Homo sapiens: one gene and its partners. The protein of the gene in region 1 interacts with the protein of each later gene in a pairwise test. Each region holds a gene or a part of one and is shown in the gene's direction. Other genes may lie near its edges. The genes, in order: ZNF143, TSC22D2, IQUB, SUOX, EXOSC1 and ZNF438.

Region 1 (3,928 bases):
TGTAAGGATTTGGGGATTTTACTCTGAGAAAGTCCTCAGAAGGTTTTGAGCAGAAGCGGGACATGAGCTAACTTTTCCCTTCAAAGGACACTGACCGCTGTGTCAAAAGAAGAGTGTAGGAGGCTAATGGAGAAGCAGGGAAATAAGTTAGGATGCTGTTATAGTAATGCAGGTGAGAGACTGGTTGTGGCTTAGATCAGGGAAGTACTGGTGAAGGTTGTGAGAGGTAGCCAGATTCGGGGTAGATTTCTGAAGATTAAGTCAACAAAATATGCTGACACATTGTAAGTGGGAATCCTCAGCAATGCTAAACCCAAAGGACTCTAATTATGGGAATTCTAGAGATCATATGAAACTGATGGGCACAATTCGTCAGTGTACTTCTAAGTTGCTAAGCGCACTGACAAATTGTGCCCATCAGTTTGAATTGTTGAATTATAAGAAGCATGCCTTGGACTTTGGGCTAATACTCTTACCCTACATATTGAGTGAAATTTCATCTTATTTCCAACACCATTACATCCTCAGCAGCTTTTTGTGGTTCATAAATATTCTTTGTAACTTTCATTTCACATGTATCATTCTTTGTTCCCAAGTGTCTTTATTTTTCTTCAAGGTAGAAGATGTTGTTAGCCCAAATAAATCGAGATTCTCAGGGAATGACAGAGTTTCCTGGAGGAGGGATGGAGGCGCAACATGTTACGCTGTGCTTGACAGAGGCAGTCACCGTGGCAGGTGAGCAGTTGTGTTTGAAGGGATGCGTTTGAAAATATCATTTATCTTAAAAGAAAAAAAATTTACAACTTCCTAGTTCCTGATTTAGCAGAAAACAATATAAACCTAGGTCTTTTTATGAGGTGTTTTGGTGTTTTTTTTTTTGAAACGGGACGGAGTTTTACTCTTGTCGCCCAGGCTGGAGTGCGATGGTCTGCTCTCGGCTCACTGCAACCTCTGCCTCCCAAGTCCAAGTGATTCTCCTGCCTCAGCCTCCCGAGTAGCTGGGATTACAGGCATGTGCCACCACGTCCGGCTAATTTTGTATTTTTAGTAGAGACGGGGTTTCACCACGTTGGCCAGGCTGGTCTCAAACTCCTGACCTCAGGTAATCAACCTGCTTCGGCCTCCCAAAGTGCTGGGATTACAGGCATGAGCCATTGCGCCCAGCCTCTATGTGTATTTTTTATCTTGGTGTGGGTACAGGAGGGCAGGGAATTTTTTTTTTCTTTTTCTTTTTCTTTTCTTTTCTTTTGTTTTTTTTTTTTGAGACAAGGTCTTGCTTTATCGCCCAGGCTGGAGTGCAGTGGTATGATCACGGCTCACTGTAGCCTCAGCCTTCTGGCTTAAGACATCCTGTCACCTCAGCCTCCCAAGTAGCTGAGACTACAGGCACCCACCAGCGTGCCCAGCTAATTATTTTATTTTTAGTAGAGACAGGGTTTCACCATGTTGCCCAGGCTGGTCTCAAACTCCTGGGCTCAAGCCATCCACCCACCTCAGCCTCCAAAAGTGCTGGGATTACAGGCATGAGCCATTGTTCCCAGCCTGTTTTTGGTAAGTGCTAAATCTCACTTTTTTTCTTTTTTTTGAGACGGAGTCTGGCTCTGTCGCCCAGGCTGGAGGGCAGTGGCACAATCTCGGCTCACTGCAACCTCTGCCTCCTGGGTTCAAGCGATTCTTCTGCCTCAGCCTCCCAAGTAGCTGGGACTACAAGGTGCATGCCACCGCGCCCGACTAATTTTTATATTTTTAGTAGAGACGGGGTTTCACCTCATTGGCCAGGCTGGTGTCGAACTTCTGACCTCATGATCCACTTGCCTTGGCCTCCCAAAGTGCCGTGATTACAGGCGTGAGCCACTGCACCCGGCCGCTAAATCTCATTTTGAGTCTGAGTTAAGCAGTTTACCTTTTTTCTGATCTTTATTTGAAAAAAAAATTAATCAGCATGTCCATATGCTAGCTGTCTAAAGAAAATATTGATTTTTTTGTAATAGATGGTGACAACTTAGAAAATATGGAAGGCGTAAGCTTGCAAGCAGTAACACTTGCAGATGGTTCTACTGCTTACATACAACACAATTCTAAAGGTATGTGCCTCACATATGGCTGATTGGTTAATACCAGTGATTTATAACCTGTGAGTTGGAGCACCTAGAAGCTATACCACCTTTCCTATGTCTCCTAAAGATGCTGTATTGCATATGATGATTTTAAGTCATTTCAGTTTAATTCTTTTTTTTTTTTTTTTTATAATTTGGAATAGTCCTTTGAGATATTTGGAAGATACCCTGGGATATCAAAATTAGTGGGAGAGAGGAGAGCAGGGAGTATGTCTTACTATTTTCTAGTAAGACCTTTCTTGCTTCTTTACCTTGGGTCATTATTTCGTATTTTTACCAAATACCTGTAAGAGTAAAGACATTTGGGGCCGGGCATGGTGGTTCACGCCTGTAATCCCAACGCTTTGGAAGGCCGAGGCGGGCAGATCACCTGAGGTCGGGAGTTCGAGACCAGCCTGACCAACATGGAGAAACCGTTTTCTGTAATAAAAATACAAAATTAGCTGGGCATGGTGGCGCATGCCTGTAATCCCAGCTACTCAGGAGGCTGAGGCAGGAGAGTCGCTTGAACCCGGGAGGCAGAGGTTGCAGTGAGCCGAGATCACGCCATTGCACTCCGGCCTGGGCAACTAGAGCAAAACTCTGTCTCAAAAAAAAAAAAAAAAGACATTTGGTTTTGCTTATCTGACATTGTCTCTGAATTAGTGTTTGCTTTGCTCCAGGAAACAGCCAAGTCCTCAAAAACTCTTTGTTTCTATGGAAACCTACTGAGCACATGCATACATAAACAGGGGTCTTATAGCCCTCAGGGATGAGAATGACAGATGATCTCACATACACTGACATAATCTGTCTGTCTTCCCAGCTTCAACTCCCCACTGGTCATGGTCACTGATTCTAAGTGACTCTGAAAGGTATAAAGCAGTCCAACTCATGTAGCCTGCTGTGATGAGCCACTCTTCCTCTTGACCTCATCTAATTGAAAATTGCAGGGGAGGAAGGATGGCTGAGGGAGGATTTTCTGCTTTCTGTAGGATCACTGGATGTGTTATTGAATTGCCTCAGAACATTGAGGGAAGAATCAAGATGAACACGAGCTTAAGTTGTGTATGTTTTTATAGTTGATATCATTTTGAAATTGTATAAAGTTTAAAATTTTTGTTTGTGCCAATTTATTGTCTTGAATCTTTTGTTATAGATGCAAAACTCATAGATGGCCAGGTCATTCAGTTGGAAGATGGTTCTGCGGCCTATGTTCAACATGTACCCATACCTAAAAGTAGTAAGTATTTAAGATAACAGCACGGGAAACCATTTTAATTCTCAGCTTTTAGTATTTGCTACCTGCAGCTCCCTCTTACTACCTAAACTTGGTCTTGTTCTCAAGTCCTCCTTCTGTAAAGGGAGATTATAGATGCCACAGAGTGGATCTTAACCAAGACTTTCTCGTAAAGATAATGGAAAAGAAGTTACTGGACTGCACTGTGGAGATAAATGAGTAACAGTCCTGAGTGAATGTTTCTGTTTTTTGAGCTGAATCTTACATGTCTCTCATTTTCTTCATTTTTCCCCTTCTTTCAACTCTCTTTAATACTGGTGTATATTTCTAAAACCAATATTCTAATGTCTTTTTACCTTTAAACACTGACGCAGGGAAGCTTTACTGAACTTACTTAAATGTTCAAAGACTCATGAAGCAAGTATAGATTGTTATAATGTGTTAATGGTTTATTGACTCTTGTTGCTAAGTGAGTTAATTGGAATGTGCTAGAAAACATGAGATCTAAATGTAAGCATTGTTCTTGAGCAGGGGACAGTTTGCGTCTAGAGGATGGTCAAGCAGTACAGTTAGAAGATGGTACCACAGCATT
Region 2 (3,928 bases), on another chromosome or scaffold:
AAAGAAAACAAGGTATATAGTATTATAACATTAGGTGAAGGAAGGAAATTATTGATTCTGCTTCAGTTGATCTTTCTCATTTTAAAAGAGTCAAATCTCACTATGATAACTTTGAACATAATAGAAAACATCTTGATACCCTCATTGAAACAGTATTTTTAAACCATATTCTGGGATCTTGAAATAAAATAGTCTCTTATTTGCTTAAGACTACCATATTGGTATCTCCATCGTAAATATGGCTAAAGCAGTGGTTCTCATACTTTAGTTTCTATCTGAATCGCCTAGAGAGTTTGTTAAAATAGATTACGGGGCCCCGCCCCAAGAGTAAATCTGGGGTGGGTCCAAATATTTACATTTCTAACAAGGTCTTGGTGGGTCCAAATATTTACATTTCTGACAAGTTTCCAGGTGATGCTGATGATTCTGGTTCAGGGACTACACTTTGAGAACTGATTTATCTGAACTCAAAAAATTTTAATGCCTTCCTCATATGAACCATTAATTGTTTCAAATCTATCATATCTAATTACTATCAGTATGCATTGAGTTACTATGTGCTAAGCACTGAATTCACTTATTCACAAAGATGAAGAAGTTATGGAACCTTTCTCAAAGAGCTCAATCTAATAGGATCAACAGTGGTAGTATTACAATACTCAAAGTAATCACTGTCTGTATTGAGTGCTCAGTGTGCCAAGTACTATGCATTATGTAAACTCATTTAATCCTCACAATTGGCATATAATCCTTATTTTAAATGAAAAAACTGAGGTCTAGAAAGGTTAAATAATTTCCCAGAATTCATATAGTGAGTATATGGAGGAGCCAGAATTTGCTATTCTGCCTTTTTGCACTATAAAAAGTTTGCGAAGATTGGTAGACCCCAGAAAGGATGGAGTAATTGGCTCTACCTTAGAAAATCAAACAGCATCACAGAAGAGATGGCACTGGAGCATCTTAAGGGACAGGTCTAAGATAGCCAGATGAATTGGAACTGTGAGCATTTCCAGCTGAGGGAGCAGTTTCTGCAAAGCCAAGGAAACCCGAGAGAACATATGTTCCACAGACTACAAATAGTTGTATAAGACCATAACACAATAGGCAGATGGAGTATAAGAGGAAAACAGACTGTATAAGGCAGAGGTCAAAGTCATAAAGAATTTTATATGCCAGGCTAAAAAGTTTTAAAAATAGAATTAGGCTTCTTAATTTTTCCTCCTATAACTTTCATTTGTAAGCCAGCAGTTCTCAAAGCATAGTCAGACAGTAGATTCCACATCATCTGGGAACTTGTTAGAAATGCAGATTCCTGGTTCCATGCCTACTGAATCAGAAACTCTGAGTGGGGGAGCCCAGCAACCTGAGTTTTAACAAGACCTCCAGATGATTCTGGTGCATGCTAAAGTTTGAGACCCCTGCAGTAGGTTATAGAATTCTTGAATAATAGCCTTCAAGATAGTTAAAGGTCACTATAGTGGTAGTAATTATATTTGACACTGATTTATTCTATTAGAGTACAACACCTAACAGTTGAAATATTAACACCATTTAAGGGATACATCTTCATCATGATCTATTTATACCTTGCAAACCTGTTTCTTCTGTTGTCATAAAAGAGATCTTAGGACAAGAGTTTGTTAGGTCAGCATTCAAAGAATAGCATGCTAACTATTCTTCCTTAGCTATGGGAATCATTCTAAAACTCGCTGACTGATTTTAATTATCAAAAAAAAACCCCAGTAATTTTTGTTTTTTTTACTGCTTGTTAATACATAAAACTGATGTTGTAGTTAGTATTTAAGGTGTGCTATTTAAACCAAATGTGTTGAAGGAATCAAATGATTTAAGTCATGACATGACTTAAAAGTAATTCAATCTTTCCTTGTCATGTCAATAAAAATATAGAAAGTATAATCTGGGATTCCCAAGCAAACTAATTTAAATGCCTGTCACCGTCTTTTTTGCCAAAATGTGTTCAGTATTTGTGGTGAATATGTCTGCATGGTATCTGGCACTGAAGTATATACTAAAGCGTTATGGTTGACTTAGTGGTTCTGTAGTTTATAGTTACATATAGTCATACTTTGCACAGCTCACTAAAAGCATTTAAAGCCCAGCACATATAAAGTATTTGTTAATGATCCATAAATCCTTTCTAGATATTAGATATACAAAACCTCTTTTCATCTTAGAAATAGTAGCAGCAAGAAGTGAAGGTAGTATGCTGTAATTAATGTGGTTAATGCTCAAATAAACAAACGTAGTTTCCCATGTAATGATTCAAGATTTCAAGGATTTAGAAGTGGAAAGTCCATTGAGGCATTGACATCAACCCCTTGTTTTACAGATGGGGAAACTCAGATCCAGGGAAGTTAAATAGGTGATTTGCTGATGTCCCATAGGAAGTGAATAGCAGGATATCACAGGACAGGATATTTCTGAGCCTCAATCTGATACAACATTATGGGTCCACACCATCTAAAGTAAAGTAGTTTCCAGGTATTTTAGCACTAAAATCTTAGGTGGAGTATACTTTATGAAGAATATTTAGTAACATATAAAAAATTATCTTTTCGTATTGATACAATAAGCTACAGTATCAGATTTTTCTTTACAAGAGTAATTTTTAAAAACCTAATAACTGTTTTTAGAAATAAAATTCATTAAAAAACAATAAAAGGGTATAAATTCCAGCTATTCTTACTACTTAATACATGGTAGAATATAAACCACCAAAGAGGACAATTAGCCTTCTGTGTTATTATCATACAATTGCTAAGGTGATATTTGAACTTGGAATGTGCTTACAGGCTGGATAACTTTTCAGTTATTCCCAAGAAGAACTGATCTAAACCACACATACCTTATAGGTGATTTTTGCCAGCAAGTAACCTACAGTCAAATACATGTAGGTCTGCCAGAATGTTGTTTCTTTTTGTTTTTTTTTTTTTTGTTTTTTTTTGAGATGGAGTTTTGCTCTTGTTGCCCAGGCTGGATTGCAATGGCGTGATCTCGGCTCACTGCAGCCTCTGCCTCCTGGGTTCAAGTGATTCTCTTGCCTCAGCCTCCTGAGTAGCTGATTACAGGCACCCGCCCCAAGCCTGGCTAATTTTTTTTGTATTTTTAGTAGAGATGGGTTTTCACCACGTTGGCCAGGCTGATCTGGAACTCCTGACCTCAAGTGATCCACCTTCCTTGGCCTCCCAAAGTGCTGGGATTACAAGCGTGAGCCACCACGCCCGGCTGAATGTTGAGTTTCTTGTTAACCAATCCTACCCAAAGACTTTCTGAACCATTTTTAGAAGCCATTAAGTTTTTTTTAAAAAACTAGATGTTAAAGTATAAAACTTATACCAGAAAAGTCTTACTAAGAGGAGGGACTAGAAAAAAAAAAGTCAAGCCATCATCTGAATTTTACTACAATAAGTAATTATTGGAATTTCTACATGAAAGGCAATTAGAATGTATAGTTGGTTAATGTAGAAATTTAAGAGATACGGAGAAGACACTGCCCATTTAAAATGTATCCTTTTAAAACCACTGAACAGAGAAATTCTTAATACAATTGAGAGTTAGTTTTAAAGTAGCATACATGTATTACAGGCAAATTAGAAATGTTGGCACTACAAAGGACCTGTAGAAATCATCTATTTACTGAGACTTTCATTTTAGAAATGAGAGCTTTGAGTACTGAAATTGTCAGAACAGAATAAGCTATTTTAAATTACTGTATATTTGGTTTTAAGTGAAACACAAATGTCTTTTACATTCTTTTAAGAGTTGGAAGGGAGGTTAAATTTTTTAGAATAATAACATATTCTAATTTTTTCCAGTGCATCTGGGGGAGGTGTTGTAGCCATTGACAACAAAATAGAACAAGCAATGGTAAGTAAAAGTTTACAGTTCTCCCATTTCATAGATTGTT
Region 3 (3,928 bases), on another chromosome or scaffold:
ATCACTTATTAGGCTTGAGCTTGCTAATGGAAGTGGTGATCGTTTAACCATGTGGTTATTGTAGTGGTGAAGATTTACACATTAAATAAGTCTTGGGCATCTGAAGCTTGAAACACTTTCTTAATGAAATCTTGCCGTTGAATCTGTACTTACTGATAATATGTCATTGGTTAAAATATATTTATAAAATGTATAATTGACCAGCAGGTTAATACATTTTTATCATTAATTTGAAATTTATCAAAATGAGAATATACAGTACCTGACGGTCAGTGGAGTTTGATCTTAATTTGATTTGAAAATTATGATCAGGAAAATAAATAACCTGAATATATGCTTAATAATATAAGACTTTGAGTTTGCAAAACAGAAATCCTGACTTGACTAAAATACACTTTTCATTTGACGGAGACCTTTAGTTAAGGAAAGATTAGTTTTAGCATTCAACATAACTAAATACCCAGCATTATGTTTTACGGTTTTTTTCAACAATGATTTATGTGTCGTGTTTGGTGTTGCCTCCAAGCAGTACCTAGGATAGCTGATGCTTTTACTTTGAGTCTTTTTCTTTAGTTGGAACATTAATTGCAAGCTTTTGGTTGGTAATCATTTTTTATGGGATGTATTTACTATATGGTCCTCACGGAGACACATTGTTATCTGGAGAACCACAGTTTGGAAAATACATTTCTCTTTATTATAAAGTTTTTTGTTTTATATATATAATGCCACAGTGTGATAGGATACAAAGACTATGCATTAGGGCTTTGGAGTCTTAATTGTTCTTTGTGTTTTTCTTTTTTTCCAATTTGATTATGGATCCGAACCTAATGCACTCTGTGATCTTAAGCAAGTTTCTTGACAGTTCCAGTTTTCCTATCTACAGAGACAAGAAGATCTACCTCAGAGTCATTGTAAGGATTAAATAAATTTGTAAAGCTCTCAAAGAGCAGCCTAATCCCAGCATTTTGGGTGGCCGAGGCGGGCGGAGCACCTGAGGTCAGGAGTTTGAGACCAGCCTGGCCAACATGGTGAAACCCCGTCTCTGCTAAAAATACAAAAATTGGCCAGGCATGGTGGGGGGTGCCTATAATCTGAGCTACTGGGGAGGCTGAGGCAGGAGAATTGCTTGAATCTGGGAGGTGGAGTTTGCAGTAAGCCAAGATCGCGCCACTTCACTCCAGCCTGGGCAAAAAGAGTGAAACTCCATCTCAAAAAAAAAAAAAAAAAAAAATCAAAGAGCAAAAAGGTAAAAAGTTTGTGCAGAGTAAAAAATGGGTAGAAATGGATTACAGGGAAGCTTATAGTGAGAACAAACCATAAATAAAATTGACATTGTGAACACCAGCCTTAGATTTTTTTTCCCTGAAAATTAAAAAGTGCTTTTTTAAATTTTTTTATTTTTTGAGTTGGAGGGTTTTTTGGTGTTGTTGTTGTTGTTTGTTGTTGTTTTGTTTTTGGTTTTTTGTTTTTTTTCAGAGTCTCCCTCTGTCGCCAGGCTGGAGTGCAGTGGCGCTATCTCAGCTCACTGCAACCTCCGCCTTCCAGGTTGAAGCGATTCTCCTGCCTCAGCTTCCCGAGTAGCTGGGACTACAGGTGCCTGCCACCATGCCCGGCTAATTTTTTGTATTTTAGTAGAGACGGGGTTTCACCATGTTGGCCGGGATGGTCTCGATCAGGCGTGAGCCACTGTACCGGTTGAGATGGAGTCTTGCTCTGTTGCCCAGGCTGGAATGCAGTGGCATGATCTCATCTCATTGCAACCTCTGCCTTCCAGGTTCAAGTGATCCGTGTTTCAGCCTCCCCAATAGCTGCGATTGCAGGCTCCTGCCACCACTCCCAGCTGATTTTTGTATTTTGTTTTGTTTTCTTTTTGAGATGGAGTCTGGCTCTGTCGCCAGGCTGGAGTGCAGTGGTGCAATCTTGGCTCACTGCAACCTCCAACTCCCTGGTTCAAGCAATTCTCCTGCCTCAGCCTCCCGAGTAGCTGGGATTACAGGCACATGCCACCACGCCCAGCTAATTTTTGTATTTTTGGTAGACACAGGGTTTTATCATGTTGGCCAGGATGGTCTTGATCTCCTGACCTTGTGATCCGTCTGCTCAGCCTCCCAAAGTGCTGGGATTACAGGCATGAGCCACCGCACCTAGCCTGTTTTTTTTTTTTTTTTTTTTTTTTTTTAAGTAGAGACAGGGTTTCACTATGTTGGCCAGGCTGGCCTCCCAACTCCTGACCTCAAGATCCGCCCACTTTAGACTCCCAAAGCGCTGGGATTACAGGCATGAGCCACTGCATCCAGCAGAAAATTTAAAAATTAATATAGATTATTGTTTATATATAATTGCATGCATTTAAAAGTTCGATCTTTAACATAACTTTAAAAACTGATTCTTAAAAAATAAATTATCCTATTAAAACAAAAAAAAAACACTAGAGACAGCTTAAATGTCCATCAATGAACAACAGTTGACTACCATGTGGCTTAGCCTTGCAAAGAAGTTACTGTGAAGTTGTTGAAAAGAATGCGGCAGAATCGTATTTTACATAAAAATAAATGTTAAGCACGTATTATAAAAAGTCATAAAATAGTATTAAAGTTTAAAAATAAACAGAAATATAGTTTATGAAAGACATTGATATGATCATAAACAAATTTAAATGTATATATATTATATAATTGTAGCTTTATAGACAATTCCTGGAAAGATAAACTGCCTAACAATGAGAAATAAAATTAGCATGTCTGAAATACTTTTACTTCTTATTTTATCCCCTTCTATTCTGTTAGTTTTTTTTCTAGTAAGCACATATTACTCTCTTAAAAACAACAACAAAATGAATGATAACAATAATGAAAAAATGATTTTGAAAAGTCTTTTCCAACTGTAGCTTTCCAAACTGGGTTGGAAGATCACATTTTACATTTCACACTTTTAATATGTGTACTTTGTTATTTACATTTAATATTTGCTGCAGTGAGAGTTTACACATATGTATGCAAGTAGAGCATATTAATATGTACATATGAGGGGGTATTAGGAACCAATAAAATTAGCTCCTTGTTCTAGATGGGTGAAAAAAAATCTGCTGAATATTTTTTACTCTATTTTAAATCATAGTCATGTTTGTCACTTAAGAATAAAAGACATTCTCTGATAATATATCTGATGGCAAAATTGTTAGTTAAATTCTGGATCTGACTACCACTAACCTACCATGAGGCATTCCTGGGTCTTAGCTTTTTCATCTGCAGGGAGATCAGTTTCTAGACTTTTTCTTCATCACCAGGACCCCTTTTCTGTTCTCCTCCCAATCCCCCATGGACTCCTACACTGAGATACAGCACAGTTAAGTGGTTAAGGGCATGGGTTCTGGATCCAGACTGCCTGGATTTGGATCCCAGATATACTGCCTACTAGCTCTGGGTTCTTGAAAATATTGCTTAACCTCTCTGTGCTAATTTCTTTATCTGTAAAATGGGCATAATGATATCATCTGTGAGAATTAAATAATTTGGTATAAGTATTTGCTAATATTATGCTTTATTTTAAAAGTATTTTTTTCGGGGAGGAGTCAAGATGTCCAAATAGGAATAGCTCTGGTCAACAGCTCCCAGCGTGAGCGACGCAGAAGACGGGTGATTTCTGCATTTCCATCTGAGGTACAGGGTTCATCTCACTAGGGAGTGCCAGACAGTGGGCGCAGGTCAGTGGGTGCGTGCACCGTGCGCGAGCCGAAGCAGGGCGAGGCATTGCCTCACTTGGGAAGCGCAAGGGGTCAGGGAGTTCCCTTTCCTAGTCAAAGAAAGTGGTGACAGACGGCACCTGGAAAATCGGGTCACTCCCACCCGAATACTGCGCTTTTCCGACAGGCTTAAAAAACGGCGGACCAGGAGATTATATCCCCCACCCGGCTCGGAGGGTCCTA
Region 4 (3,154 bases), on another chromosome or scaffold:
CGAGCCCTGCCCCGCGGGGAGGCAGCTAAGGCCCGGCGAGAAATCGAGCGCAGCGCTGGTGGGCCGGCACTGCTGGGGGACCCAGTACACCCTCCGCAGCTGCTGGCCCAGGTGGTAAGCCCCTCATTGCCCGGGGCCGGCAGGGCCAGCCGGCTGCTCCGTGTGCGGGGCCTGCCAAGCCCACGCCCACCCGGAACTCCAGCTGGCCCGCAAGCTCCGCGCTCAGCCCCGGTTCCCGCTCGCACCTCTCCCTCCACACCTCCCTGCAAGCTGAGGGAGCCGACTCTGGCCTTGGCCAGCCCAGAAAGGGGCTCCCACAGTGCAGCGGCGAGCTGAAGGGCTCCTCAAGTGCCGCCAAAGTGGGAGCCCAGGCAGAGGAGGCACCGAGAGTGAGCAAGGGCTGTGAGGACTGCCAGCACAATGTCACTTCTCACTAGGATTATAAGGGTGAGCCACCACACCCAGCTCTTTTATTACAGTATAATGTTATAATTTTTTTCTTTTTCTTTGTTTTTTTTTTGAGACGTTTGAGACGGAGTCTCACTCTGTCGCCCAGGCTGGAGTGCAGTGGCGCGATCTCGGCTCACTGCAACCTCCGCCTCCTGGGTTCACGCCATTCTCCTGTCTCCGGAGTAGCAGGGACTACAGGCGCCCGCCGCCAAGCCCGGCTAATTTTTTTTTTTCTATTTTTAGTAGAGATGAGGTTTCGCCGCGTTAGCCAGGATGGTTTCGATCTCCTGACATCGTGATCTGCCCGTCTCAGCCTCCCAAAGTGCTGGGATTACAGGCGTAAGCCACTGCGCCGGGCTAATTTTTCTATTTTGTTATTGTTGTTAATCTCTCTTTTTTTTTTTTTTTTTTTTTTTTGAGATGGAGTCTCTCTCTGTTGCCCAGACTGGAGAGCAGTGGCGTGATCTCAGCTCACTGCAACCTCCACCTCCCAGGTTCAGGTGATTCTCCTGCCTCAGCCTCCCGAGTAGCTGGGGTTACAGGCACGTGTCACCATGCCTGGCTTATTTTTGAATTTTTGTAGAGACAGGTTTTCCCCATTTTGGCCAGGCTGGTCTCAAACTCCTGACCTCAGGTGATTTGCCCGCCTCAGCCTCCCAAAGTGCTGGGATTACAGACGTGAGCCACTGCGCCGGGCATTGTTGTTAATCTCTTACTGTGGGTAATTTAGTAATTAAACTATAAGAGGTATGTATGTATGGGGGAAAAAACAGTAATATAGGGTTTGGTGCAATCTGTGGTTTCAAACATCTACTGGGGGTCGTAGAACATATCCCCAGTGGATAAGGGGGTACTACTGTACTTGTTGGCTCTTCATGTTAGCTCTGCTAGGCAGATGTCATTTCAGAGATGAGGAAGCAAGTTCAGAACGGCTTGGAATCTTGCTCAGGAAATCGGGCTGGTTAATGAATAACAAGAGATCCAGTTTCACAAACCCAAGGCATTTTGCCCCCAGAATCTGGGCTTCTTCACCCATTTAGGCTGTCACTACTTTTTTTTCACTTTTTTATCCCTGTTTAAGTCAGTCTGACCCACAGTTGTCCTCTGCTGACTTCAGAAATAATAATCTGGCCAGTAGACATTTGGTTTCGGTCCTTTAGGCCCTTCGCCCCAGGCATCGTTCTCTATGGTGGACAAAGTTCAGAATGGAAGATGGGAGAAAGGTGATTCTGATTCTAGAAGCACCCATCCCTCCTACCCCATTCCCCACCCGCATTACCTGCCATCCTGTCAGCACAGTCTGTCTCTGAAGTGCTCCAAGTTTTCTCTAAGGGCCCATTTGGACTCCCACTCTCAAGACTCCTCACTTGCCCAGAAAGCTCCTTGCTGACCTTCTCTGTGTCTTCCTCTCACCCATTCCCTTAGGCCTCCCTAATATCCCCTCCCAGGGTCTCCCTATCTTGATCCCAGAATCTTCCTTCTACAGGTCTGCTACAATGCTGCTGCTGCACAGAGCTGTGGTCCTCAGGCTCCAACAGGCCTGCAGGTAGGCCAGCCCATCCCAGGACTTGCCTCCTAGCCCCTATCTGCCACCCTTAGTGTCTTTTACAATGTCATACCTTGCAAATAAGACAGTTGAGAGAGTGTGTCCAGGGAGGACAGAGAAAGCCAGATCCCACTTTTCCCACCTATCCCTGGAGAAACTAAGTTCCAACTTAAGGAACCAATGGCCAACCAGGGAGAAAGAAGTAGACCCCAAGCCTTCACTAGCCCTTTCACATGACCATACGTGCTACTAAGACCGACCTCTCTTCCAGACTCAAGTCAATCCCCTCAAGGATCTGCATTCAGGCCTGCTCCACAAATGATTCATTTCAGCCCCAGCGCCCCAGCCTCACCTTCTCTGGTGATAACTCCAGCACCCAGGGATGGAGAGTCATGGGGACCCTATTAGGTCTCGGTGCAGTGTTGGCCTATCAGGACCATCGGTGTAGGGTAAGTAGGGAAAGTGCTTCATTGTCAGAACAGACTGGGTGCAGTGGCTCACGCCTGTTATCCCAGCACTATAGGAGGCCAAGGTGGGTGGGTCACTTGAGGTTAGGAGTTTGAGACCAGCCTGGGCAACATGGCAAAACCCCATCTCTAGTAAAAATTAGCCAGGTGTGGTGGTACATACCTGTAATCTCAGCTACTTGAGAGGCTGAGACACAAGAATCACTTAAACCCAGGAGGCTAAGTCTGCAGTGAGCCAAGATCAAGATCAGGCCACTGCTCTCCAGCCTGGGTGACAGAGTGAGACTCCATCTCAAAAAAAAAAAAAAAATTGTCAGAATAAAGGAATCAGTCCTAGTAAACTCCACAGGCAACCCAGGCTGTGACCCATGTTCTTGTAGTTACCACAGAGTTCACAGTGACGCAGTCTTCATGCACAGTGGAGATGAAATCTGCTAATCTGCTACCTTCGCTTCCCAGTGGCCAACACCGTGGGTTGGGTCAGGGTGAGCTCAAGTGATTTCTTCTTATTCTTCTTCATTTTTTCTTTTTTTTTTTTTTGAGATGGAGTTTCACTCTTGTTGCCCAGGCTGGAGTGCAATGGCATGATCTCAGCTCACCACAACCTCCACCTCCCGGGTTCAAGTGATTCTCCTGCCTCAGCCTCCCAAGTAGCTGGGATTACAGGCATGCACCACCATGCCCAGCTAAT
Region 5 (3,928 bases), on another chromosome or scaffold:
GTGGCTTCCTTGAGAAAGGACAAACATTTCTTGCCAGGCAGATAATCTAACTTTTGAGGCCCTTTCCAGCCTCAGGATTTGATGTGGTTCTGTAGTGCAGCAGTCCCCAACCTTTTTGGCACCAGGGACCAGTTTCTTGGAAGACAGTTTTTCCACAGACCATGGAGGGGGTGGTTGCAGAATGATTCAAGTGCATTACATTTATGGTGCACTTTATTTCTGTTATTATTACACTGTAATATATAATGAAATAATTATACAGCTCACCATAATATAGAATCAGCGGGAGCCCTGAGTTTGTTTCCCTGCAATTCGATGGTCCCATCTGGGGGTGATGGGAGACAGTGACAGATCATCAGGCATTAGATTCTCATAAGGAGTGGGCAGCCTAGCTCCCTCATATGTGCAGTTCACAATAGGGTTCATACTTCTATGAGAATCTAATGCCCACTTCGATCTGACAGGAGGCGGAGCTCAGGCAGTAATGTATGCGATTGGGAAGCAGCTGTAAATACAGATGAAGCTTGCCTGCCACTCACTTCCTTCTATGCAGCCCGGTTCCTCACAGGCCACCAGAAGTTGGGGGCCCTTGCTATAGTGCTTCTGTTCAAGCCCTGAGGCAACGAAATTCCTTATCCTTTCTTGCCAAATCCGATCTGCCTTTATCTAATCAGAGGTATTGATACTGCCTCTCCATGTGGTCTGAGGATGCTTCTCCACCCTGCTCCTCTGGGTAGCAGCTGTGTCCCATTTACAACTTGTTCTGTCTGTTCTTGTAGCTCTTTATTTACTAGGAATCTACAGAATAATTCTTTCTCACAGGCTGGGCAAGGTGACTCATGCCTGTAATCCCAGCACTTTGGGAAGCTGAGGCGGGTGGATCACCTGAGGTCAGGAGTTCAAGACCAGCCTGGCCAACATGGTGAAACCCCATCTCTACTAAAAATACAAAAAACTAGCTGGGCATGGCGGACGTGCCTGTAATTCCAGCTGCTTGAGAGGCTGAGGCACGAGAATTGCTTGAACCCAGGAGGCGGAGGTTGCAGTGAGCAAAATTGCGCCACTGTACTCCAGCCTGGGTGACAGAGGGAGACTCTGTCTCAAAAAAAAAAAAAAAAAAAATTCTTTCTCACAGGTAATTAATCTTTCTGTTAATTCTTTTTTTATAGCAAGGAAGATGTCCGAGCAACTGAAAAAGACAAGGTTGTTGGTTGGTTCTTTTTTTTTAATGGCTTTACGTATCTCAATCCCTTAAAAGTATTATCTCAGGCCAGGCATGGTCACACACACCCGTAATCCCAGTACTTTGGGAGGCTGAGGCGGGAGGATCACTTGAGTCCAGGACTTCAAGACCAGCCCTGGCAACATAGCGAGACCCTGTCTCTACAAAAATTTTAAAAATTCAAAAATTGGCCAGGCATGGTAGCTCATGCCTGTAGTCCCAGCTGCTTGAGAGGATGTGGCTGGAGGATTGCTTGAGCCCAGGAGTTTGAGGTTAAGTGGTGGCACGCACCTGTAGTCCTAGCTACTTGGGAGGCTGAGGCAGGAGGATCCCTTGGTCCAGCAGTCCAAGGCTGCAGTGAGCTACCATTGCATCACTGCACTCCAGCCTGGGTGACACAGTGGGATCCCACCTCTTAAAAAAAAAGAAAAAAGGGCCGGGTGCAGTGGATCACACCTGTAATCCCAGCTCTTTGGGAGGCCAAGGTGGGCGGATCACAAGGTCAGGAGTTCAAGACCAGCCTGACCAACATGGTGAAACCCCGTCTCTACTAAAAATATAAAAACTAGCCTGTGTCGTGCCATGCACCTATAATCCCAGCTACTCAGGAGGCTGAGGCAGGAGAATCGCTTGAACCCGGGAGGCAGAGGTTGCAGTGAGCCGAGATCGCACCACTGCACTCCAGTGTGGGCGACAGAGCGAGACTCCATCTCAAAAAAAAAAAATTTTCATTTGTATGATAATACTGTAGAAGCAATTAAAAGTTCTTGACTTGACATGAGTAATGATGATTTCTACCCTCCAGGATTAGAAAGTAGATTGGCTTTACCAGAAGCGTTCACAGTTTCATATAGACCCAGTCTAGAGCTTTCACTTAACATTCCTGTTCTTTCTTTACAGGTTGAAATTTATAAGAGTTTCCGCCCAGGTGACATTGTCTTGGCCAAAGTGGTATCCTTTATTCCCAGCAGACTTCTGGTCCTTTGTCAAAAGAAGAGAAGGAGGCCGGGTGTGGTGGCTCATGCCTGTAATCCCAGCACTTTCGGAGGCCAGGGCGGGTGGATCACCTGAGGTCAGGAGTTCGAGACCAGCCTGGACAACATGGTGAAACCCTGTCTCTACTAAAAATACAAAAATTAGCTGGGCGTGGTGGCACATGCCTGTAATCCCAGCTATTCGGGAAGCTGAGGCAGGAGAACCGCTTGAACCTGTGAGGCAGAGGTTGTGAACTGATATCACGCCACCGCACTCCAGCCTGGTTAACGGAGCAAGACTCCATCTCAGAAAAAAAAAAAGGTAGAAAAACAACTCAGGTGGCTAAGGTGGGGGAAGACTTCTAACTCCTCATTTTCCTTCACCGGTGTTATGTGACTAGATCTCCTTAGGTGATGCACAGTCCAACTACCTGCTAACCACCGCCGAGAACGAGCTGGGAGTGGTGGTAGCCCACAGTGAGTCAGGTGAGATGGCCTTGTTTCCACATCCTTACTTTCCCTGGATCTATGGTTTGGGATAAATCCATTGTTTTTCCTGGTTTCCCTTATCTGGGAAGCAGTATGGCTATAGATATTTCCCTCTGAGATTAGAATGATTATTTTTTTCTTTTTTGCTTGGTGCTGGTGGTGGTGGTTGTTTGAGACAGGGTCTCACTTTGTCGAGGAGGCTGGAGTGCAGTGGTGCCATCTCCACTCACCACAGCCTCCACCTCCTTGGTTCAAGCAATTCTTGTCACCCAAGTAGCTGGGATTACAGACACACGCCACCACACCTAGCTAATTTTTGTATTTTTAGTAGAGACAGGGTTTCGCCATGTTGGCCAGGCTGGTCTCAAACTCCTGGCCTCAAATGATCTGCCCGCCTTGGCCTCCCAAAGTGCTGGGATTACAGGTGTGAGCCACCACGCCCAGCCTGATTCTCCTTATATAAATCCAAGGAAACGGGACTCACTTCATAAGTCAGTAGAATGAACAAAGTTTTTTCTTTATGAGTTGAGGTTCAGTAGGAAGCTTGGTGGCACTTCAGCTTCATACCCAGCATAAAAGAGGAGTCGCAGGCAAATCTTTGGGGTCTGGGCTCCACCACCAGCTTTTCCCTTCCAGGTATCCAGATGGTTCCCATCAGCTGGTGTGAGATGCAGTGCCCTAAGACCCACACTAAAGAATTCCGGAAAGTAGCCCGAGTACAACCCGAATTCTTGCAGACCTAAGAAGCCACTTTTTACCCTATGGAAGGGGGTAAGCTGTTCCTGAGTATAACACCAAGATGCTGCTGTCTTTATTCAAACACCTGGCGTCGGCCAACAGCCACTTCCAGAAAAATCTTCCAGTTTACGCTGTAGATGGAACATGTTTCTGTGAACCTATCAGTGGATTTCATTCTCTTGAGTAATAAATCTTATCTTTTCAAGGCACCAACAAACAAAACTGTGATATTGGAAATAGCCTATCCCTCCTGACAGTCCTTATAAATACATATTTTTTGCTATGATAAAACTTTTTTACTAAAAGGATGTTATAGAGTCTGTTGTCTTAAGCAGAGAAAGACATCTAAATGGTGTCAGGACATTTCAGTACTTCTGCTTATTGAGTACTTACTGTGCTAGGCACTGAGTCAGGTGCTTTACATACGTCCCCTTCATTTAGGTACATTGTGATTTAATGAAAATTTGAGGACACGTGGTGATACAGATAGCATGTGAGGCAGGCA
Region 6 (3,928 bases), on another chromosome or scaffold:
GACATCATGTGAAGATGAGTGGGGATAGGTTAAATGGAGAGGATGGACTTGCAGAATACATGGATGAGAAGGACGGAATTTTCGCTGTCAAGCAGTGTTGACTAGTAGAGATACACATAAACACATAAATTATTATGGAAAATGGTAAATAACATAATAGGAGCTAAGGAACCATAGATAAGTATAGAAATCCTTGGGGAAGGTAGGCAGGAATTGATCTTCAAGCTGGTCTTGAGGGACACAAGATTTTGCCCAGAAGGCTTGGAGGTAGGTCAAGGAATCTGTTCTGGGCAGAGTAAATAAGATGCTTGTTGTTTGAAGTATCACTAACAGAACAGTTACATACAGTAACTCTTTATATTTTATTGTCATTGCAGGTGAATCAAACATCCCTTCTGGAACAATACAGAGTAGGAAAGGTTTGCAGAATAAGAGTCAGTTTAGGACCATTGCACCAAAAATTGTGCCCAAAGTCCTAACGTCCAGAATGCTGCCATGTCATTCACCATCACGCTCTGATCAGGTGAATCTGGGACCCTCCATCAACTCCAAGCTGCTGGGGATGTCCACCCAGAACTATGCCCTGATGCAGGTTGCTGGCCAGGAGGGGACATTTTCTCTTGTTGCTCTGCCACATGTTGCCTCAGCTCAGCCAATTCAGAAACCCAGAATGTCCCTACCTGAAAACCTGAAACTTCCTATTCCTAGATATCAACCCCCTAGAAATAGCAAAGCATCAAGAAAGAAACCCATCCTGATCTTTCCTAAGAGTGGCTGTAGCAAAGCTCCTGCCCAAACCCAAATGTGTCCTCAGATGTCCCCTTCCCCACCTCACCACCCTGAACTCCTGTACAAACCCAGTCCATTTGAGGAAGTACCATCACTAGAGCAAGCCCCAGCCAGCATTAGCACAGCTGCGCTGACCAATGGAAGTGACCATGGGGACTTGAGACCACCAGTGACCAACACCCATGGCAGTCTGAACCCTCCTGCTACCCCAGCATCATCCACACCAGAGGAGCCTGCCAAGCAGGACCTCACAGCTCTTTCAGGGAAAGCACACTTTGTAAGCAAGATAACATCTAGTAAACCTTCTGCTGTTGCCAGTGAAAAATTTAAAGAACAAGTTGATCTTGCAAAAACCATGACCAATTTATCACCAACCATTCTTGGCAATGCAGTTCAGTTGATCTCTTCAGTCCCCAAAGGGAAACTGCCAATCCCACCCTACTCAAGAATGAAGACAATGGAGGTTTACAAAATCAAATCAGATGCTAACATTGCAGGTTTTTCTTTACCAGGACCTAAGGCCGACTGTGATAAGATACCCTCCACCACAGAAGGCTTTAATGCAGCCACCAAGGTGGCAAGCAGGCTACCTGTTCCACAAGTGTCACAGCAGAGTGCCTGTGAAAGTGCCTTTTGTCCACCCACCAAACTTGATCTTAACCACAAAACAAAACTGAACAGTGGAGCAGCAAAGAGAAAAGGAAGAAAACGGAAGGTACCAGATGAAATTTTGGCATTTCAGGGAAAAAGGAGGAAATATATCATTAATAAGTGTAGAGATGGTAAAGAAAGAGTAAAAAATGATCCCCAAGAATTCAGAGACCAAAAGCTGGGGACCCTGAAAAAATACCGTAGCATTATGCCCAAACCTATCATGGTCATACCCACTTTGGCCTCCCTGGCTTCTCCAACTACACTACAGTCCCAGATGCTTGGGGGCCTAGGACAGGATGTTTTGTTAAATAATTCACTCACTCCTAAATATCTTGGCTGTAAGCAAGACAACAGCTCTTCCCCTAAGCCCAGCTCCGTGTTCAGAAATGGATTCTCTGGCATTAAGAAGCCTTGGCACAGATGTCACGTCTGCAACCACCACTTCCAGTTCAAACAGCACCTTCGAGACCACATGAATACACACACCAACAGACGCCCTTACAGTTGTCGGATTTGTCGCAAGTCCTATGTACGTCCTGGCAGCCTGAGCACACACATGAAACTTCATCATGGTGAGAACCGTCTGAAGAAACTCATGTGTTGTGAGTTTTGTGCAAAAGTGTTTGGCCACATCCGAGTCTATTTTGGCCATCTGAAAGAAGTGCATAGGGTTGTGATCAGCACTGAGCCTGCGCCCAGTGAACTGCAGCCAGGAGACATACCAAAGAACAGAGACATGAGTGTGCGAGGCATGGAGGGATCATTGGAGAGGTGAGTGCCAATGTAATGGAGACCTGGCAAGAGAGTCTGTTTTGATTTGGGGAAGAGGGGAAGATTTCATATTCAGAAAGGAGAGTTTATAAAACATCTCTAGGATTAAGATTTCATAAAGTAGCTATGTATACCTCCTAGATCTGTGAAGAATGATCTTGTTTCTCTCTGGTTTCTGATCATCCATACTTGGAATTACCCTAACCAATCTAGTAAAGTACTGTATATAGTTCCAGTGGTCTTTACAAGTAATTTCCCCCAAAATCACATCCACAGAATTTGCGTTATTTTAAACAGCATCATTTGCCCCAAAATGCGGCATGACCCATGGTTGGGGACTCAGAGTGGGTGGGTCTGTCATGTTGACCCTACCTTAAGGTGCCCAGACCCCACCCTCTTCATTTGCCCTGTTTTTCCCATCAGTTCGGGTTCACTCTTTCTGGTGTCATTCCTTTTTGCAAGCACTGCTTCCTGGTATTATTGCTATGGGATCCTTGGGGTGTCATTTCACCAGCCGGAAACCTCTGTGGCCAGTGGCGCCTTGGCCTGAGTTTTGCTCTGGCCCATTAGGCTCGTTCCACCCACTTGGAACCTAGCAGGCTGCACTCAGCTCATGCTACCGGCCTAGATCCCATGCCTGCCAAGGGCGAGCCAGGCACAGAGTGGTGAGGGATGTGTGAGTGAGCGTGGGGTCTGGCCACTGCGCATAGGCAGGCACGCCGGCTGCTGCTGCAGGCCAGGCAGCTCCAGGTGCCACCTCCTTGCAAGGCTGTGGCTGGACCAGGCACATCACAAGCAGCTTCCACGGTTGGCACCAGGAACATGATGTTGCCCAGAAGCTTGGAGACTAGGGAGTCACTGCCCTGGCTCAGGGGGCTCCCAGGACAGAGCTCCCCAAAGGGCCGCAGCTCTTCTCTTCACCTGCTGTGTGGCAAGCAAGAGGCGTGTTTCAGCCTGTTTGTGTTACAGCTCTCTTAGCCCCACCATTTGGCAGGTCTCAAGTTCTTGTCCTGCGTTCAGGAAGAATGAGGTACACAGAGAAGTAGAGGGTGAGCAAGATGAAGAGGAGCTTTATTGAGTGATAGAACAGCTCAGAGTTGAACTGCAGGGGGCAGTTCCTCTCTGCAGGCAGGTTTTCCCCGTCATCTCTTGTGCTCTCAGCAGAGAGGGTAGCTCCTCTCTGCCACTGGTCGTCCCATTGTCTCTTCAAGTCTGGCTAAGTCCGGGGCTTTTATGTGCCTCAGAGGAGAGGAAATGCGTGCAGTTGGTCCATGGGCAGTCATGGACAGACCCAGAAAAGCACCACAAGTTCCCACTCCAGTCCACATGACTGGCAACCTGGCCCCCAGGCTTCAGGGCTTCTCTGGCTTGAAGGTGGGGCTTCACCGGGGACCTCCCCTTTTCTGCCCAGGAGCTTCTTTGCTCCCTGCTTCTGTTTATGGCACCCAGGCTGTTCATGCTGAGGGGGCACCTGCAGGCTGGCACCGAGCTGTCCTGAGCACCCCTTCCTCAGCCTCCCTTCCATGCTTATTGGCACCCAAAGTCTGGAGCAGGCCAATGGGGTAGGAGGTGGGCATATCAGCACTGCCTCAAGCGTGTGCACACCCAACCAGGTTACAGCAGAGCCCAGGCTCAGCCCCAGCCTTGCTTTGAGATTGGAGCAGGTGCTGACAGCAGGGAGAAGCCAGGCAGCAGGAGCAGGTGCTTCTTGAGC

What was found.
Region 2: the proteins of ZNF143 (region 1) and TSC22D2 interact in a two-hybrid assay, tested with the Homo sapiens proteins (one study listed by BioGRID).
Region 3: the proteins of ZNF143 (region 1) and IQUB interact in binary tests that used the Homo sapiens proteins (3 or more experiments, as listed by UniProt).
Region 4: the proteins of ZNF143 (region 1) and SUOX interact in binary tests that used the Homo sapiens proteins (3 or more experiments, as listed by UniProt).
Region 5: the proteins of ZNF143 (region 1) and EXOSC1 interact in binary tests that used the Homo sapiens proteins (3 or more experiments, as listed by UniProt).
Region 6: the proteins of ZNF143 (region 1) and ZNF438 interact in binary tests that used the Homo sapiens proteins (3 or more experiments, as listed by UniProt).

Annotation. Positions count from the first base shown.
Region 1 is NC_000011.10:9,470,686-9,474,613, forward strand, and holds part of ZNF143 (zinc finger protein 143), read left to right. Parts: intron 1-616; 5' UTR 617-620; coding exon of another isoform or gene 621-623; coding exon 624-735; intron 736-1,990; exon of another isoform or gene 1,991-1,991; coding exon 1,992-2,084; intron 2,085-3,091; exon of another isoform or gene 3,092-3,164; intron 3,165-3,255; coding exon 3,256-3,339; intron 3,340-3,864; coding exon 3,865-3,928. UniProt on the Homo sapiens protein: Transcriptional activator. Activates the gene for selenocysteine tRNA (tRNAsec). Binds to the SPH motif of small nuclear RNA (snRNA) gene promoters. Participates in efficient U6 RNA polymerase III transcription via its interaction with CHD8.
Region 2 is NC_000003.12:150,453,240-150,457,167, forward strand, and holds part of TSC22D2 (TSC22 domain family protein 2), read left to right. Parts: intron 1-3,836; coding exon 3,837-3,888; exon of another isoform or gene 3,889-3,893; intron 3,894-3,928. UniProt on the Homo sapiens protein: Reduces the level of nuclear PKM isoform M2 which results in repression of cyclin CCND1 transcription and reduced cell growth.
Region 3 is NC_000007.14:123,527,979-123,531,906, reverse strand, and holds part of IQUB (IQ motif and ubiquitin-like domain-containing protein), read left to right. Parts: intron 1-3,555; exon of another isoform or gene 3,556-3,662; intron 3,663-3,928. UniProt on the Homo sapiens protein: Adapter protein that anchors the radial spoke 1 (RS1) complex to the A microtubule of outer doublet microtubules in axonemes. The triple radial spokes (RS1, RS2 and RS3) are required to modulate beating of the sperm flagellum.
Region 4 is NC_000012.12:56,000,276-56,003,429, forward strand, and holds part of SUOX (sulfite oxidase, mitochondrial), read left to right. Parts: intron 1-1,936; 5' UTR 1,937-1,946; coding exon 1,947-1,996; intron 1,997-2,267; coding exon 2,268-2,445; intron 2,446-3,154. UniProt on the Homo sapiens protein: Catalyzes the oxidation of sulfite to sulfate, the terminal reaction in the oxidative degradation of sulfur-containing amino acids.
Region 5 is NC_000010.11:97,435,945-97,439,872, reverse strand, and holds part of EXOSC1 (exosome complex component CSL4), read left to right. Parts: intron 1-1,169; coding exon 1,170-1,203; coding exon of another isoform or gene 1,204-1,210; intron 1,211-2,122; coding exon 2,123-2,173; intron 2,174-2,597; coding exon 2,598-2,682; intron 2,683-3,321; coding exon 3,322-3,428; 3' UTR 3,429-3,928. UniProt on the Homo sapiens protein: Non-catalytic component of the RNA exosome complex which has 3'->5' exoribonuclease activity and participates in a multitude of cellular RNA processing and degradation events.
Region 6 is NC_000010.11:30,846,817-30,850,744, reverse strand, and holds part of ZNF438 (zinc finger protein 438), read left to right. Parts: intron 1-377; coding exon 378-2,214; intron 2,215-3,928. UniProt on the Homo sapiens protein: Isoform 1 acts as a transcriptional repressor.